2 separate regions of the Homo sapiens genome follow, and region 1 is linked to region 2. Evidence: fine-mapped expression QTL. A gene starts in region 2. The other region holds a variant in brackets. All regions are shown on one strand. Distances are from middle to middle. Region 1 overlaps CAP2 (cyclase associated actin cytoskeleton regulatory protein 2). Region 2 holds the start of RBM24 (RNA binding motif protein 24).

Region 1 (9,586 bases), 240 kb after region 2:
CCACTGCCCTTCAGCCTGGGCAACAAGAGTGAGACTTGGTCTCAAAATAAATAAATAAATAAATAAATAGTTATAAAACGTGTTACATTTATACAAAATAAATATGATCCATAGAGCACATCAGGCATCATGGATTGCCATGACAGCTGTTATTTATATTATACATATTATGTGCTCACATAATATGCCAGGGGAATATTCTATTCAAAATGGTAAAAGCAAAGCATCTACTTCACTTCTCTAATGGAAGAGAAAATGATAAAGTTTTGGTCAGATATTAAAAATGATTAAAAATCTTTTGTCAAGCTTTAAAACATATGCCTAGAAATATATTTCCTGATTTTTTATCTTATTCTTCCAAGGTTTGGGCAGCTATTAAAAAGTATATTATAACAATTATATTTTTGAATTTTAAAATCAAATTTCTTTTAAATTATTAAAAACGACTTAAAGATTCCAAAGCATAGTCCATAGCATAAATCAAGCTAATTTCTCCTCTCTGACTGTGGCCTGTCGACATTCCAGCAAAATGGAGGATAAACAGTTATAGCCAGAGTTGCAGCATTCTTGCAGAGAAGAGAAAAGGACTCCTAGAATCATCTGATTGAATGGTCTTTGGGAGGAAAAAATAAAGCAAGACCATTTCATTTGTTTGCCCACTGATCACAACTCTGTAAAAACTATGTATTTATAAAATGATAAATATCATGAAAGACTATAGAAAGATGTGGTGTTGATGTTTGTGGACACCACAGTATTCAGAGATTTTTTTTTTAATTTAATTTTTTTGTTTTTTTGAGACAGGGTCTCACTGTGACACCCAGGCTGGAATGCAGTGGCACAATCATGGCTCACTGCAACCTTGACCTCTTGGACTCTAATGATCCTCCTGCCTCAGCCTCCCGAGCAGCTGGGACTACAGGCCTGCACCACCACACCTGGCTAATTTTTTTATTTTTTGTAGAGACAGAGTTTTGCCATGTTGCCCAGGGTGGTCTAGAACGCCTCAGCTCAAGGAATTTGCCCACCTCGGCCTCAGAAAGTGCTGGGATTACAGGCGTGAGCCACCACATCCAGCCCAGAGGTTTTTCAAAAAAACCCATTCCATCTTAACAGACACAGTCCATTGCACAAAACTCCTACTTGCACCGTGAAAAGTTTATGACGACTTAACATCTCAAGTACTTTCAGTAATTGTTGTTTTTTTCTATTTTCAAATTGGATTTTGAGATTTGCACTCTGTGGGGTTTTTAGTGACTGACAGCCTGCTGTTTGAGACCTGGACTGTCCAAGGGCACGTGGCTCTACAAAATCATCCTTCCCTGAGTTAACAGTTGGAGCTGAAAGTCCCTGATCCCATCTCCTAACCTCTGCCTCCAGACCGCAGCTGTGTCAGGCAACTGCTGCCCTGTTCAGTTGTCAGGGTGAAATGCCAAACTTTGAGACCAGCGATTTGAAGAGAGTCTACGTGTGTGTGCAAGTGTGCCGGGTGGGGTGGGGTGAGTTGGGTGGGAGGAGGCAGCTGTGGAATAATCTGTCTGGAATGTCTTCTTACATTTACCATGGTAAATGGAATCTTGTCATTTCTATGAGCTTTTTTCCAACTTATTAAGACAGCTGTCAACTAGAAAGACCCCACACCAGAAACTAACTTGCTGTTTTCAGTTAGTTTCATCCTTGGGACTGGACCTCTTTTTCATATGAGTTTGTGTCATTTCCTCAGTGCTAAGTTTCAAATGCACTTCGTTGAACAAATTGATCTTTTGGCACAAACCCATTAGCAGCACTGTTACTTAGGATCCCTCGCAGTTGGTCAGAGCTGTAATATTCCTTGGCATTTCCTTCAAATCAGATAACTAAAGTCGAAAGACTAAGGCCTAGTCTTTACCCTTATAATTATTGAAATAATTGACTTTTTTCCTACAAAACTCTTCATTTCTGTGAATCTATAAATGCAGACTATTATCCTGTTCTAAAAACAGACTATTATCTGTTCAGAAAATTCTGCTCAGATAAAGGTCATGTAAAGAATTCTATGATTAGGAGAAATGTGATTATTTTATTAACTTTCGGTTGTTAAACTTGTTGACATATTTCTGTCCTTTCCTATATTTCTGAATTACTTTAGCTTTGGGATCAAATAAGATATAATTATTTGTAGAGTAGAATAAAACTGCACATGGATGAATGTATATACAGTCTTATGTAATAGTGATGTAGTTCTATTTTTTTTGTTGTTACTGTTTTTTGTTTTGTTTTGTTTTTTTGATACAGAGTTTCGCTCTGATGCCCAGGCTGGAGTACAGTGGCACGATTGCAGCTCACTGCAGCCTTGACCTCCTGAACTCAAGCAGTCCTCCTGCCTCAGCCTCCTAAGTAGCTGAGGCTACAGGCGTGCACCAACATGCCTGGCTAATTTTTATATTTTTTTTGTAGAGACGTGATTTCACCACGTTGCCCAGGCTGGTCTCAAACTCCTGGGCTCAAGTGATCCGCCTGCCTTGGCCTCCCTAAGTGCTAGGATGATAAGCATGGTAGGATGATAAGCTGCACCCAGCCAATGTAATTCTTAATAATACGGGTTTTAAAAATCCATCCTATACACTATCATCCATCCTAGCCTCTCCTGAACCTCCAGGAAAATGCAAGTCGTTGGTGGTGGTTACAATTATAGACAAGGTGGCGTTTCATTTTTCCCAAAGCAAAATGCTTTAGGATCACTTCTTTTCCTCCAGGTAGATATTTCTTTTCTTTCTGTTTCTTGGTGTAAAGGCCAAATGTCTGTTAACAAAGTGAAAGTTTAATAGCTTACTTTTGATCAAATTAAAACTCAGCCAGAGGGTATCCCGACTTATTATAAATAATGTAGACTCTGTGGCATGTCATTAACTATGAATATGTATGCCTTGTACGTTTTCAAGTCTTCAGGCCTCTTTACCTTCCTCTTGCTATTTACAAGAGAAAACTGTTCTTAAGCTTTTATATCCAAATTTTCATTTAGAACTTGTACCAAACCCACACCTTAGGGGTATTAATCAAAGTGAATGGGCAGCGCCTCAGATGATGTGTTGGTTGTCTGATGACAAAGCTCACTGTTCTCTATGGCTCTTCCCACGGAGTGGCCCTGGCCAGTGTACCTGACCACAGCTGCGTCGTTCTACTTAGTTCAGTTTGGGCTTCTAGGTCCCTTCTGGGGCTCTGGGTGGCCAGTTACTCTTATTCTCTTATGGAAGGGTTCCACATTGCTCAACAGGGGTTAGAAGTGTCATCAACTGGCTGGGCGCAGTGGCTCATGCCTGTAATCCCGGCATTTTGAGAGGCCGAGGCGGGCAGATCATGAGGTCAGGAGATCGAGACCATCCTGGCTAACACGGTAAAACCCTGTCTCTACTAAAAATACAAAAAAAAAAATTAGCCGCACAAGGTGGCGGGTGCCTGTAGTCCCAGCTACCGGGAGGCTGAGGCAGGAGAATGGCATGAACCTGGGAGGCGGAGCTTGCAGTGAGCCAAGATGGCACCACTGCACTCCAGCCTGGGCCACAGAGCGAGACTCCGTCTCAGAAAAAAAAAAGAAGTGTCATCAACTAACAAAGAAGCCTCAAATGCACAGGTAGATAGTAAAGTTAGGTTGGAAGTGGCTGTGAGTTCAGCCTGACAGAGACCACATAATTAAACCAATATGGCTTAAGCATCTACTATGCACTGAGTTCTGGGCAAGGGGCTAAGAATACAAAGATGGGTAGATGGCATTGTGGACACGATTCCTGTCCACGGAAACGCGCATTCTAGCTGAAGAAGATGAGCAATGCACCATGATAGAACAGGGGGAGCAGTGTGCTAGGGAATCCACACAAGGCATGACGCTTGCATAGACCAGGACCACGTGGAAGATACGGCCCATCCTGTAGTGCAGCATGGTTCTGGGGCCAACAGCAACCTGGGCACTTGTTAGAAAGCTCAGGCCCCTTGATTGGGCGCGGTACCTCAAGCCTGTAATCCCAGCACTTTGGGAGGCTGAGGCGGGTAGATCACCTAAGGTCAGGAGTTCGAGACCAGTGTTGCCAACATGGTGAAAACCTGTCTCTACTAAAAATACAAAAATTAGCTGGGCGTGGTGGTGCAGACCTGTAATCCCAGCTACTCAGGAGGCTGAGGCAGGAGAATCGCTTGAACCTGGGAGGTGGAGGTTGCAGTCAGCCTGCATTGCACCACGGGACTCTAGCCTGGGCGACAGAGCAAGACTCTGTCTCAAAAAAGACAAAAAGGAAAGAAAAAAAAAGAAATCTCAGGCTCTCAGGCCCCACCTCAGCCCTCCCAAATCACAACCTACTTTTCAACAGGATTCCCAGGTAATTTATATGCATAGTGAAGTTCGAAAAGCACTGCTCTACTGTATTTAAGTTGGGCCAAAGGAGTTGTTATAGGGAAATCATTCACTTTTACACGTTCATTTATTTAGTAATTCACTTCCTTGGTAACTACTTATTGGCTACTTACCATGTACCAAGCACACACCAGGCATTATATTTATACTACAGTTCTTCCGTGAAGCAGCAGGGTTTTTATTATGATGCATAAATAAATAACAGCAATACAAAGCTAGGTTGGAAAATAAGCCTTGTGAATTAGACTCCTTCCTGGGTGGGCACGAAGAGCCACAAAAGGGCTGACACTTGATTTGGATCTTGACGGTGAGCAGGAGTTCCCTAGGCAAACAGTAAAGGGAAGGGCAGTTTTGGGGCAGAGAATTCAGCATATGTA[C/T]GTAAGACATGAACAATGTACTTTGAGAGAAAGGCTGGTGGTTTTGCAGAGCTGAATGTGGCAAAAGGTGAGGCCAGAAAGGCAGGTTGGGGCCAGATGGTGAAATCCTTATGCATTATGCTAAGAAGGTGGGGCTATGTAGTGTTTGAAGTTGTTTCCTTTGCCATAGGTTTTGTTGTTTGTTTTTTGTTTTTGAGACAGAGTCTCACTCTGTCGCCAGGCTGGAGTGCAGTGGCACGATCTCGGCTCATTGCAACCTCCGCATTCTGGGTTCAGGTGATTCTCCTGCCTCAGCCTCCAGAGTAGCCGGTACTACAGCCATATGCCACCATGCCTGGCTGATACCTCAGGTGATCCACTCGCCTTGGCCTCCCAAAGTGCTGGGATTACAGGTGTGAGCCACCGTACCCAGCCTGCATGGGTTCTTAAGCAGAAAGCAACACACTGTGAATAATGACTTAGGAATTGCATAAGATAGATGGAGAGGGGAAGAGATTAGAGGCCCTGATACGTGTTGGGAGACTTTAGTGGATGGCTAGAGGGTGAGGTAGTTAGTATGTGACCTAGAGTGTGACAATGGCAATGCAAAGAGATGGAGTAGCCACTGAGTTGGAGGACAAGGGACATAAAATCTAACACAAAATTTCCAATCTGGAAGTCTGGGAGAGAATCGTGGTAATATAAAAATAGGGAAATCGCAAGGAGGAGCTGGTAGAGAAGGAAGAAAAATCTTCACCTGGGGTTTCACTGCATTGTGTTTGAGGTGCGGGAGGTATAGGAGAGACATCCAAACACGTGGAGTCAGGAGGTGAGATTTAGATCTGGAATTCACTGAAGGGGGAGACCCCGATGTACGTGTTGGGAGTCATCTACCTAGAAAAGACCGGCAAATAAATAAGATGGTTAAAAAAGAGAGAGTGAGATCAAGGATAAAACCTTGGAAAACACTATTATTTCAAGAATGGGGTAAACTAATCAAGGAGACAAGAGATAGGAGAACTAGAAGAATGGAGAGTCTCAAAGCTATAGGGAAAACAGGCTGGCCAGTGATACCAACTGTAGTAAGCTGTGGTGAATAAGGATTGGACAAAGGCTGTCATCAGCCATGTTTACCATGTTATTAGTAACCTTCCAAGAGCAGTTTCTGGAGGACTGGAGGCAGATGCAGTTTTACAGAATTAAGGAGTAAAATGTTTTTGTAATCAAAGTACTTTGGGAGGTTGAGGCGGTTGGATCACAAGGTCAAGAGATCAAGACCATCCTGGCCAACATGATGAAACCCCGTCTCTACTAAAAATACAAAAATTAGCTGGGCGTGGTGACGCATGCCTGTAGTCCCAGCTACTCAGGAGGCTGAGGCAGGAGAGAATGGCTTGAACCCAGGAGGCAGAGGTTGCAGTGAGCTGAGATCGCGCCACTGCACTCCAGCCTGGTGACAGAGAAAGACTCTGTCTCAAAAAAAAAAAAAAAAAAAAAAGGAGTAAGAAGTTTTCCTGTAATGATCTCTTGATTATTTCTGGACCAGTTGTCTAATTTGATGGATTATTTCTTATGGCTTCAATTTCTGCCTTTTGAAATTTGGGGTATTTGTGAATTTTCATTTTAATCTGTGCTATATCTTCAATAGAATAGGTGAAAAATAGTCAAATATCTCCAATTTCACACACAGTCATTAAGAGCTATACTGTGAAGCTCTAAGTAAATGTGTTCTATTTAGAACTGTTTTTATTATCTCATAAATACCTTTGAGTTTTAGTGTCAGTTGATAATGATGCAGGGAAGGTGAACCCCAAAAGTGGGGCTTAGCCAGGAGGGTTCTTGGCTTTGCCCAGGCGAGAATTCAAGGGTGAGCCAGCGGTGTTAGACAGCAGCTTCTATGGCAGCAGCAATGTGCAGCAGCAGCAGGGGTACCATAGGAACTGTGCCCAGAGTAGCAGCTCAGGGACCATTCTGCCATTATATTTATATTCACTTTTAATTATAGGCAAATTAAGGGGGAAGTTATTCAGAAAGTTCTAGAAAAGAGGTGATAACTTCCAGGTCATTGCCATGGAAAGGGGTAGTTAGTAACTTCCAGGTGTTGCCATGGCAGTGGTCAACTGACATGGCCCTGGTGGGCATGTCTTCTGGAGAGGTGCTTTCACCTCTTTCCCCCATTGCAGCGAGTCTTCAGTCTGGTTTGGCATTCAAGTCCTGCCCAGCCCCAGTCAAGCCTGCCTCATACCTTAATAAGAATCTATAAATATTTTAGAGTATTTCTTTTCTTTTCTTTTCTTTTTTTTTTTTTTTTTGAGTTGGAGTTTCGCTCTTGTCACCCAGGCTGGAGTTCAGTGGTGGCATGATCTTGGCTCACTGCAACCTCTGCCTTTCGTGTTCAAGCGATTCTCCTGCCTCAGCCTCCCGAGTAGCTGGGACTACAGGTGCGCGCCACCACACCTGGCTACTTTTTGTACTTTTTTTAAAAATAGAAATGGGGTTTCACCATGTTGGCCAGGCTGGTCTCGAAATCCTAACCTCAGGTGATCCTCCCGCCTTGGCCTCCCAAAGTGCTGGGATTACAGGCATGAGCCACCACACCTGGCCATTTTAGAGTATTAAATCTTTCTCTCCATCAATCAAAATAGTAGTAGCTTTTAAAGCTGCCTACTTTAATGGTCAGTATTATTTTATTTACCAGAACTTTTTCATAATCAAGAATTCAAAGCTCTCTAAAATAAGGGCTAGCAAGTTAATATACATTTATTGAACCTGCGAGGCGGTTGAACCTGTGAGGCGGAGGCTGCAGTGAGCGTAGATCACACACTGCACTCCTGCACTCCAGCCTGGGTGACAGAGCAAGATTCCATCTCAAAAAAAAAAAAGAAAGAAAAAAGAAGCTTCTCCAACCTCTGCTTATCACCATGCCCACCACAAGCTGGAAGTTATCCTTCCATCCTCAGCGGCTGCATAGCACTTCTTATACTCTCCATTTCTTTTGTGTTGCTTAGCATTTCCTACCTTATATGGCAGTTATTTTCTCATTCAGTAACATGTTTATGAAGCACTTAACCATGTTTCAGGCACTGTGCCACATTGAAACATGGAATTCCCTCCTAAGAGAGTTCCAAAAACCCTACGAAAGGAGGAAAGACACATTTTGGTTGAGGCTTGAAGGCTGTTTTCCAGATAGTCAGTTGGGCAAGAGCCTTCCAAACTAGACACGCCCTGAGCAAAGACTCAAAGTCTGGGAGCCAAGTGCCTGCCACGTCTGGGAACACAGAAGTATCCTCTCTTCCTAAACTATGAGCTCATTGAATGCAGGCTCCATTTCCAGTTCAGCCTGAGATCAGTAGCAGTGACTGGTACCCTGGTTCTGGGACAGCAGTGACTTGAAAACAGATAGGATTCAAACACATTTGCTAAATCCACTGTATTCATTTGTCATCACAATGAAATTTCCAAAGCGTTAGTCCATTAACTATAGATCATGTCTGTTTTTCAAAAGCTGCATGAAAATGTGTCTTTTTTTTTTTTTTAATGATGGAGTCTCGCTCTGTCGCCCAACCTGGAGTGCAGTGGTGTGAACTCAGCTCACTGCAACCTCCACCTCCCGGGTTCAAGCTATTCTCCTGCCTCAGCCTCAAGAGCGGCTGGGATTACAGGCACGCACCACCATACCTGACTAATTTTTGTATTTTTAGTAGAGACAGCGTTTCACCATGTTGGCCAGGCTGGTCTCAAACTCCTGACCTCAGGTGATCCAACCTTCTGTGCCTCCCAAAGTGCTGGGATTACAGGCGTCAGCCACCGCACCCAGCCAAAATGTGTCTTTCCTTCTGTCCAGTGATAGGAATGGAATGGACAATGCATTTTATTCAGGAACACCCATCAACCGCCCACACCTCCTCTGCTCCTGTCCCTTGTCACCCACTGCCTTTCATTCTCAGTTGGTATAAACTCAGGAAACAGAAGGTAGTATTAACTTAAGCAAAAACTGTTTTCTTAAAAAGGGAAATGGGGGAAGGTGCAGATTATCTTCTAAAGGTAAAACAAACCCTTCATAAAACAGAACACACAGGCTGGGCGTAGTGGCTCCCGCCTGTAATTCCAGCACTTTGGGAGGCTGAGGCAGGCAGATCCCCTGAGGTCAGGAGTTCGAGACCAGCCTGGCCAACATGGTGAAACCCCGTCTCTACTAAAAATACAAAATTAGCCGGGCATGGTGGCGCATGCCTATAGTCCCAGCTACCCGGGAGGCTGAGGCAGGAGAATCGCTGGAACCCAGGAGGCGGAGATTGCAGTGAGCTGAGATCATGCTACTGCACTCCAGCCTGGGCGACAGAGCAAGACTCTGTCTCAAAAAAAAAAAAAAAAAAAAAAGAACACATAGGCAAGCCCTGGCCACGGTTTATTGGTCCAGTCTGCACCCTTGATGCAAACTAAGCATCCCTAAATAAACAAAATGCATATATAATATGGAGCCAAAGGTAACTAATCTTTCTAACAGCTATTGTTTTGCCTTAACCCCCACCTCTACTATCTACTAAGTATAGATAATTGGAGAAAGTACAGTCGTTTCTGTATGCCCCTGAAATCTGAAAGAAAAAAACCTGAATTTAGTGGTAGTTCAGACTTAGGCCCTTCTGGCCAAATGAAGTAGCTGTCCAGCTAATTCAAGCCACATGTCCCTCTTGGTCTTTATATAACTGTTGGGCCTCTTGAGTTTGTTTCTTTGATGAGTATACTCTGCTATCTTTAACCCTGGAAAGTTTTCCCATGGAAAATTTAATTTTATCTTTCCTTTTTTATGAGAAATTGTATTCTCAAGCTGGCAGACAAGAAGAAA
Region 2 (9,586 bases):
CTAGTAGTTTTTTTAAAAAGCTGATAAAAGCTGTACTTTCCTTTTGTAACACTTACGTGTGTATATTTATGTATAAGAAAAGCCTGGAATTAGATACTCTAAAATGTCAACAGTTATTTTAAGGAGTAGAAAGAATTGTGGGTAATTTTTATTTTCTTCTTTGTATATCTTTATGTTTTCATAACTTTCTATCATGAATATGCCTTTCCTTTGTTATCAGAGAAAATATCAATCTTACAAAATGATCTCAAATGGCTTAAATTAAAAAGTTAATAAGCAACACTCAAGTATTAACATTAAGCCATCTTTGAAGTCAGAGGTCACCCTCTATAGACATCTTTAAATAAAGGGTCACGCTAGTATCCTCCATTCTAGGATAAGATCATGAGTATTTTTCTAACCACATTTGTCCTTTTTAATGAAATAAACCAAACAAGGTCTTGGGGCTGGTTAATAACTGCCTGGACTAGACTCTAGGTCTCCTGTCTTGAGATCCAGGACTATTTCCATCACCCGGTGCCCTCTGCCCAGCCCACAAGCAACAGCATTAGAATGTATTTGTCATCCAGAGAGAGGTCATTCAATACATTTGGAGAGTATCATCAGTTCCCTAAAAATAACTTGGCAGCTCAGAAGCTCACTGTTTAAAAGACTTAAAACCAAAGGACACCCTGAGTTTAAAATGTGAACAAGCACACAGTGGGTTTAAAATGTTTGCATTCTCTTTCTTGCCTTTCGGGTTTACATAATAGAAATTAAAGTGTGCATACACTTAAAGCTACTTCTACACAGGCAGGGTGAAATTACTGGCACGGTGACACTGGCAATGAACATTTTTGTCCCTCGACACTTTGATTTTTGCCCTTGCCTGTCCCTCAAATAATCCTGCTCTGCTTTCTGTTTTTTGGATTTTCAGTGTAAAAGAGACATTATGACTTTAATGACTGAATAACAGGCACAAATTTGCATTTCACTTTATTTACCAGCTTAGCTGTGGTTTAATGCAACATGAATAGAATTCCCCCAGAGGTGAGTCTGAGCTGAACTGACTAGGTTTTTGACTGCCAATTCTTCTGCACACTAAAATAGCAGCATAACCTATCACACACATTTGTTATCTGTTACTGAGAGAGAATTAGCAACCCACCCAAAGAAACAGAAATACAGCTGATGACGGGACTTCTCAAAAGGCCAGAAAACCTGTTGGTTTTACATCAAAATGCTCACACAGATACTCAAAAGAAGATAAAATATTTCCAAACCACCAAAACAAAAGACTTCACTGAAGCCATATTTTTGTTTAAAAAAAAAAAACAAAAAAGTGCCCAGCCTCAAAAAAAAAAAAAAAGTGCCCACTTTATAGGTCGTCAATTCTAATCAAGAATGCATTTCTTCCCATCAAGCTTGAAGGCAGGCATCTTTAAAACATCAATTTTTTTTCAGTAAATATTTCTTTAGTGCCAAGTATATGTAGAACCCTCTGAAGGGTTTTAATAACCAGCAGGAGATCCAGTGACACCTAAGAGTGTCACCCTGCTCTCAGGTGGCTTATTGTCCAAAGCAATATTATCTCTGGGGTACAAAGCCCAAAAGAGTGCTTCTCAATCTTCATGAAATATTTCTCTCTTTTTTCAAAATTATTCTAAAAGGCTGTGAGCCTGAAGTTGATTTCCATGATTAATTTAAGAGGCAAGGGGAGAAGAGAAGACAGTTATACATGAATGTGAAACTTGTGAGTTTGGTTCTGGCCTTTATAGTCAGATAAAGATTTTGAACAAAGTGGACAATAATTTACAGTAAGTAATAAAATAATATTGATCTTGCCATGGAGTAGGAACCAAAACTTCAGGCCCATCCATATGTACTAATTTGGAGATGACAACCTTGTGGAACCTATTTATAACTTTTACAGTATTTTATGGTTCTTTCTTTCCAAAGAAGCACACATTATATTGCACAAGGCCTGTGAATATACAAGTATTCTCTGCCAAAAGCAGCTGACAAAGCAAAAGGATTATCCAAGCATTGTTTTTCAAACCTGAATTTGTAATGAGTAATTGTACAGAAATATTCGGTACTTAACCTTGAAACCTTGAATTCAGAAAAACTTTATGGCCCCAAGGCTACATGATTTGATGGCTCAGATTCGTAAATCCACCAAGAATGAGGATCTGGCCATTTTAACTGTGTCCACCTTGGTGCAAATGTAAAACAAAACCCACAGGGGCAGCAATGATGCCTACCACAGTGCTTGCCTGGGCGAAGGGAAGGGGGTCTTGATGAAAGTTTGTTGAGATGAACTGGGTATGAATTCTGGCTTCCGTTTAAATACGTTTGGAAAATAAGGAATCTCCATCCCTCTTAACCTTTGTTCTCAGTGACTCACGTAATACCAGTGTATTAGTAATGTTTTAATTATCCCTGGAATTCAAAATTAGGGACCGTCCAGGCAAAGTTTCAGGCAAAGTGATCAAGTATTTACTGTTCCCTTGAAAGAATAAAAACACTGCAGTCAGGGGTTGCACGGGATGGGAGGGACAATGACAAGGAGGCGTCTTATTTCCAGAAGCTGAGTTCTAGGACACAAGTATTCCAACCCGGGATCAGAATTTCCTTGTAGATCTCACCACTTTACCTAGTGAACATCCTAGCTGCTGGCTACACTCCCAGACACCCTCCTTCCCTGATATTATCACAGTCCTCTCCAGGGTGGGCTCCCAATCCAGGTAGGAAGAAAGGCGAGACAGCCAAAGGCGCCCTTCTAAGGCTTCTCTCTAAGCAGCTTCCCTTCACAAAAGGGTTTTGCCTGAGCCTCATCTACGTACAGTAATTCTTAAATGACACAAGATGGATGTTGAATATTAAAAAACACGCCTCTTCTCTTTCCCCGCCTGCTTTGTTTTTCTAACTTTTAAAAATTATCTTTCATCATACCAGCACAGAGAGTCGTTTTTGAACCTGTCCTTTAACTTAAGTAATGAAGAGAGGGTGTTTACAATTTCACTTTCTGGCTCTCATCTGTCTGTAAAATTCTTTATTATTTTTTTAATCGGGTGAAAAAAATGTTTTTAACTTTAATAGATTTCTGATTTCTCTATATCTCCCACTGGGGGTTCAAACTTAAAGAAACCAGTGACGTCAAAAAGTCAACCTCATGAGGAAGTCAGCAAGATGAAAAACGGAATTTAATGTTTTGCACAAGAATATTTGCATTCCCATTAGCCTTTGCAAATGCAACATTTCTCACCCTCTTGGGTTGACTGCAAAGGTGTCCTGGAGAGAAACAGAGTATGCACCTCTCTAACGGTTAACATACTGAATTGTTTTAATGGAATAAATGGTGCGGCTCAGGGGCGATTAATGTAGGGACTGTAGACTCCCGTAGAAAGGACTTAAAAGGCAATTGTGCACCAACAATGGTGGATGAAACCTTCTGCTCACATCAAATATTTTCATCCAAACCTCAAGTATGACTGATTGATTTTAAGGCCTAATTGAATGAATTCTCAATTAAAAGAAGTTGCAAAAAGCTGATGTAAAGTAATAAATATATATGGGGTGCCCTATGTTCTACAAATGCTTTCAGGTCTGCTGGTAGAAACCACTGGTTATGCAATAAGTTGATTTCAAAAATTATACCTTTTACATTTACATCCAGATAAAAACAGATGAGGTCAAGCCACTAAACATTCTTGTAATTCAAAGAGAAAGAAATAGATTAATTCTTTGTTTAGGGAAAAAAAAAAAAAAAGAACGACTTATGCTAAGACATCTGTACCAATCTTCCTGAATAACTAAGTTAGGGAGGAAAGACAAATTTGGTGACTGTGGGGGCTAAAATACTAACTTATGGTCCTCTGAAATAGAAGGCGGTGCCTGATGGACATAGGTATCTCCGGTTACTTGGTTTGGCTGGGCGGTAGCAATTAAAGCTAATGGTTTTCCCAACTACACCCAAGCGCTAGATCTTTCTTTTCCTTCTGGCTCTACCTCTCTGATACTTCCCCGCACTGGCTTTTTGGGGCCAAAGAAAGTTGGGGCCCTCCTTCTCACTCTTCAGACCCCAGGGTGTCCAGCTTGGGTTTCGTTCGGCCGAGCTCCTTGACCCCCCGCGCCCGGGAGGGGATTGGCCTCTCAGCGAATCGCCCCAGGCCTCTGGGGACCCCAGTTCGCCAGTCCAGGTCGCCGGCCCTGTCACCGAGGCCTAACCCAAAAAGCTCGCGTCGTCCCCTCTGGAAAGCAACGCAGCTTCCTCCTTGGGCACAGTCCCCGCACCCTGGGTCCCGGCTGGTGCTGCGCCGGGTCCCTAAGACTTTGACTGGTTAGAGCAGGCGACGCCGAGAGCCAGGCCGCCTACAGGCGTCTCCAGCCCTACCCCATCGCCGGCTACAGAGCGGGAGCCCCGAGCCCCAGCGCCGCGCCGCGCGGGGAGAGAAGCAGCTGTTCCCAACAGCTGGGGGGCGGCGGCGCCCGGCGCCCCAGGTGCTGCCGCGGCCAATCGCAGGCGTCCGGCCCGCCCCCCTCCCCAGCCGGGCGTCGACCCCCGGCCCGCGGGGGAAGGGAGCAGAGAGGTGGAGAGCTGTCCTCGGCACTCGTCTTCCAGATCCCACGGCGGGAGGGACAGACCAGAGCCGAAGCTGCGCGGAGTTCCTCGCCCCTGGCCCCGCCGCCGCGCCCCCCGCCCGCTTCGGCGCTCGGACGCTCTTCCCGCGGACCCTCCCCACACCCCACCCAAGGCACCTGATTCCTAAGGAAGAAAAATCTACCTCTAAAGCACCCGCTTCTTCGCTTGAGAACTACCCTCTCTTTTCATTTTTGGCCTCCCCGCCGGGTGAGTGGAAACCGCTTGCACATTCTATAGAACCCGATTCTAATCCAGACGATCCGGAGAATTTGTACGGTGACCGGCAGGGGGGGCGGGAGGAGAGAGCGAAGTCAAGTCTCCAGGGCCGCTGGCGACTTCGGAAGCCGCGCGCCCGGCGCTCTCGGCCGCCCCCGGCCGCTCGCCCCCGCCGCGCCGCCGCCCTCGCCCCCGGGCTCGCCCTTGGCCCCCGGCGGCCGCGAAAGGGTGCGGGAGACGCGGAGCCGGAGGAGGAGGCGCAGCCGCTGCCCGAGCCGCAGCCGCAGCCGGAGCCCGAGCCGCGGGGCGGGTGCGAAGATGCACACGACCCAGAAGGACACGACGTACACCAAGATCTTCGTCGGGGGGCTGCCCTACCACACCACCGACGCCAGCCTGCGCAAGTACTTCGAGGTCTTCGGCGAGATCGAGGAGGCGGTGGTCATCACCGACCGGCAGACGGGCAAGTCCCGGGGCTATGGATTTGTAAGTTGCACGGACTGGGGGTGACGGGGAGGGACGGAGTGGCGGCTGACCCCGGGGATCGGGAGCTTGGAGTGAGGGGCTCGGCGTGACCCGTGAGGAGCCCCGCGGGTAGAGCGGCGCTGCCCCTTCGCTCCGGGGTGAACTGAAACTTTGCTAGGGGAGAGGGTCGGCGCCAGCCTCGCGGGGTTCGGAGAAGACCCAGCGCTGTGCGAGGTCGGGGGCCGGGCAGGGCAGAGCAGGGGTGAAAGGAGAGACCTGTAATGACGGCGGGATTTGGGGTGCGGAGGGTTGCGAGGGAGGGGCCGCAACCCTGAACAATTGCATTCCCGGGCTGGATGCCGGTTGTTAAGCGCGCTGTTGCTTTGTAAAAATGCGTGTGTTCTGGTGTTTTGGCTGGGGCAGGGAGGGGACACCCCACGAGGTCTGGGGCTGTTGCCCTTGTGTCATCCCCCCGCCTTTTAACTGCAAAGGTAGGTTCTTTTAAATCATGATCCTAGGGCTCTTTGCCGAACTGAAACAGAGCATATTAAGCTTCCTTCCTAGAGATTTAAGCGTGCAAATTCAGCTGCCGAAGAGCAGGGAGCCCCAGAGTAGGACAATAGCTATTGTCGTTGGGGAGTGTTTTCGAGGTTGGGAGCGTTGGGCGGATGTAAGGCTGGACTTTCTTTAAAGCAAACGGTGCCTCTGAGGCTGAGTAGGGACCTGGGGGGCGGGGGATTCGGGGGAAGGAGGATCTAGAGTTCCAAGAATTTAGGCTTCCAAATCTCGGCTAGGCCCTACTAACACCCTTAAGATTTCGGCGGTGGGGTGGGGGGAGGCAGGGTTAGAGGGTTTCTTTCTTTTTTCCTTCGTCTACCCGCCCCCCCCCCCCACGCCCCCGCCCGCCTGTTAAAAATGGGAGATCAAGGAGGAGGGTCCAGCCAAAAGAAGCAAAGAATAGAAAAAAAGTTTGATCTCAGTTTTATCATGAATGACTTCTCCATTGTGATTCTTGATTTCCTTCATGGGTTAATTTAGAGGTTATGTATGTATGTCTGTGTGTGTCTGTTGCTAAGGTCACCATGGCTGACCGGGCTGCTGCCGAAAGGGCCTGCAAGGATCCCAATCCCATCATTGATGGCAGAAAGGCCAACGTGAACCTGGCATACTTAGGAGCAAAACCAAGGATCATGCAACCAGGTGAGAAATGTCTGTCTCCCCTACCCCCCTCTCCAAGAACCCCCCATTTATGGGTGGGATGATTCTCTAATTTAGAAGACATTGTCTCTTTCTGTAGATGTGTTTAGTAAACTTGAACCATGGCTTGTTATTCTACCAAGGCATTAAACATAAATGAGAGTTGTAAATACTCCTCTCAAGGCTTGAAATGTACCTGTGTGCAAAAATGGATCTTGGGGGTCGTGCAGGAAGAAGAGTTAGTCATGTCTCACCTGTTTCCTATATGGCATACATTTGTAGTCTGCTCTCAATTTTCCAATTTTTAGCCACCTGTAGATAATTCACATGTGGATTATATAGGCCAAATTTGTCGACTTCAGCTAATATACTTCCCTACTTAGTGGTGTCTCTCCTTTTAGCACCAGTTGCACTGTGCTCAGAGCAGGCAGTCTGACTTGAACACAGACCCAAGGGAAGCATTAAGGGGTAGGGGCGATGTCCAAATGGTAAAGGTTTTGTTTTTTTTTGAGATGGAGTTTCGTTCTTGTTGCCCAGGCTGGAGTGCAATGACGCGATCTAGGCTCACTGCAACCTCCGCCTCCTGGGTTCAAGTGATTGTCCTGCCTCAGCCTCCCAAGTAGCTGGGATTACAGGAATGTGTCACCACACCCAGCTAATTTTGTATTTTTAGTAGAGACGGGGTTTCACTGTGTTGGTCAGGCTGGTCTTGAACTCCTGACCTCAGGTGATCCACCCGCCTTGGCCTCCTAAAGTGCTGGGATTACAGGCGTGAGCCACCGCGCCTGGCCCAAAATGGTAAACCTTCAACATAAAATCACAGAGTATTAGCAATCAAAGAAAACAGAAATTGCACCTACTCAAGAACCCTATGCTACAGACAAAGAAACTGATGCTTAGAGATGAGAAATATTTTACTTAAGTCATGTAGCTATTAGTTGCCAAAAGGGAGCAGTTTTTTGTCTATGGGAAAACAATACCTCTTGGATTATTTACAACACTGCCCTTTGCATTAGCACAAATAGTTGAGAGTTGATTTTTAAGCAAATATAATATTTTCTTTGGTCAGGCAACTTTACTTGTAAAGTTTGATTAAATCATATACTCTTCACTCCTAAGCCTTTCCATCTGAAATTTTGGGAAGAGGTTGACACTTCCATCCAAACGGGTTTAAAAGGAAACTAGGTTGTCAAGAAAATGAGTGTTTGTGCAAATATTCATGGGCGTTAAAAAAATTTGTCTAATACATTGTGGGTATGTAGTATCCAGAAAAAAAACATTTTTTTTTGTGAATTTTTAATACTGGAAAGTGTAAAACCCATAATCTTCCAAAGCATTGTCTGAAGCATCCCAGAACGTTCCAAATTACAAAGACTTTTCATAGATTCTGGTTCAAAACTGTGAGAATATTTGAGATGTAACTTCACTGTCAAATCCTGCTGTACTTAATTTTATTTCATGAACATTTTCCCAAGGTCTGATTCTGTGTCTGTCAACTAAAATTTGCAGATTTTTTTAAAGTTTTCACCTTTTCTCTGTTAAAACCTTTATTTTGAATCAATGATAGCATTTATAAAACTGACTTTAAAAAATATACATACATATAGTTTCTTTAAAGTGGCGAAAGAATGTTTATCTTTTATAAGTGAAAGTTGTGATTGCATTTTACATGTAGGAATAATAAATGCCTAACCATGCACAAATAAAGAATGTGGTATATTTTGTTGTTAGGTTTTGCCTTTGGTGTTCAACAACTTCATCCAGCCCTTATACAAAGACCTTTCGGGTAAGTTGATTAATCAGGCTTTCTTAAGTTTCAGTATGACTATCATTTGTTAACGTGCCTCTTTGTTATATACAGATAAGATCATGATGTCACAGAATGGTCCTAGTTATACAATTTTATATATATTTGTGCATTTTTAATGCTGATACTATAAATATTTTTAGATGAGTCAAGTTATCTGACCAAGTATGCAGCCTCCAAACGAGACAAATTTTGAGCTTATGATTAGCAAAACAAAACAAAAATACCAGGTATGACTTGTGTACAAGACGATTGTGTCCCATCACCATTACTACTGTTCGACTTGACTCAATTTTATTTATCTCTTTCTAACCTGACAGGGCTCGTATACAGTTAAGCTAACTGATCAGAAGGATACCATGATAAGAGGTGGAATAGTTCTGTTTGGAATTAAACTCTGTAACCAGTAGACTCAGACACACAAGCTCAGATGGTGATTAACGATGCATGGATGTTGGTGTTGTTGTTTTTATTTTTCACAATAGTCAATAGCCCTTCGTGTGCTTTATTTTATTTATTACAGTAATGAAGTGGTGTTGATAGCTAAACTGTGTGCTTTTTACTTAATTGAAAAGAGCTGTAGTGAAAGTGTTTTCTTTTCCTCGGGGAAGGGGCTCTTTGCGTTTTGATTTTGGTGGTGGTGTTGAGGGGTGTTGACTTTTGACTTTGCCATGGGAAGCAAAGGGCCTTTTTTTTTTTCTTGCTTTTAAGCTGTAGCCTGTGACTTCCATTTAACCACATTTTTGTAGTGAGTGCTAAATTGTGTGATTTCTCTTTGTCAGAATACAGATTCATTGCTTGCATGTCCTAAGTTTCTGTTTTATGGGAAATTTTCTGGGAATGGGGTTCTTTCTTTTGCAATGTGTATCCACTTTTAGGCCATCTAATTTAAAGGTTCAACAACTCTCATCAGATTTTATTAACACAAGCCAGTTTTTTTGAGTAGCGTCACACTAACTTTCACCTTTCAGATCTAACTCAGGTGAACACCTGTTCATATTTATGTTGTCTTTGGGTCCTGTGATTACCAGTTTTCCTGTTCCAAGGTCCTCATTTCTCTTCCTTTCAGAGGTTATATGGGTGGGAGATCACCCCTCGCCTCAATTTATCCTGGACACTAGATTCTGTTTTGGCTCTGTTCTACCTGATCAACATGCCTGTAACTCTAACGCAGGATACTTAAATTTTCTTTTTAAATGTTCATGTTGTTGAAAGAGTGTTTTATCCTCAATAATAATTTCTCCTCTAGCTTAGGACCTAAAACATCTACCTGTGTA

The links.
Region 1: its variant is fine-mapped to the expression of RBM24 in nasal epithelium (TOPMed, PIP 0.99).

The regions. Positions count from the first base shown.
Region 1 is chr6:17,517,859-17,527,444 of GRCh38, forward strand. The region is part of intron 7 of CAP2 (cyclase associated actin cytoskeleton regulatory protein 2); the gene reads left to right. Among named protein-coding and RNA genes, the nearest start is that of FAM8A1, 78 kb to the right of the region's middle. The variant C/T (reference allele first, on the strand shown) is at 4,762.
Region 2 is chr6:17,276,424-17,286,009 of GRCh38, forward strand. RBM24 (RNA binding motif protein 24) reads left to right here and starts at 4,938. Exons shown (of 4, transcript NM_001143942.2): 1 at 4,938-5,326; 2 at 6,382-6,505; 3 at 8,234-8,288. The coding sequence starts at 5,159.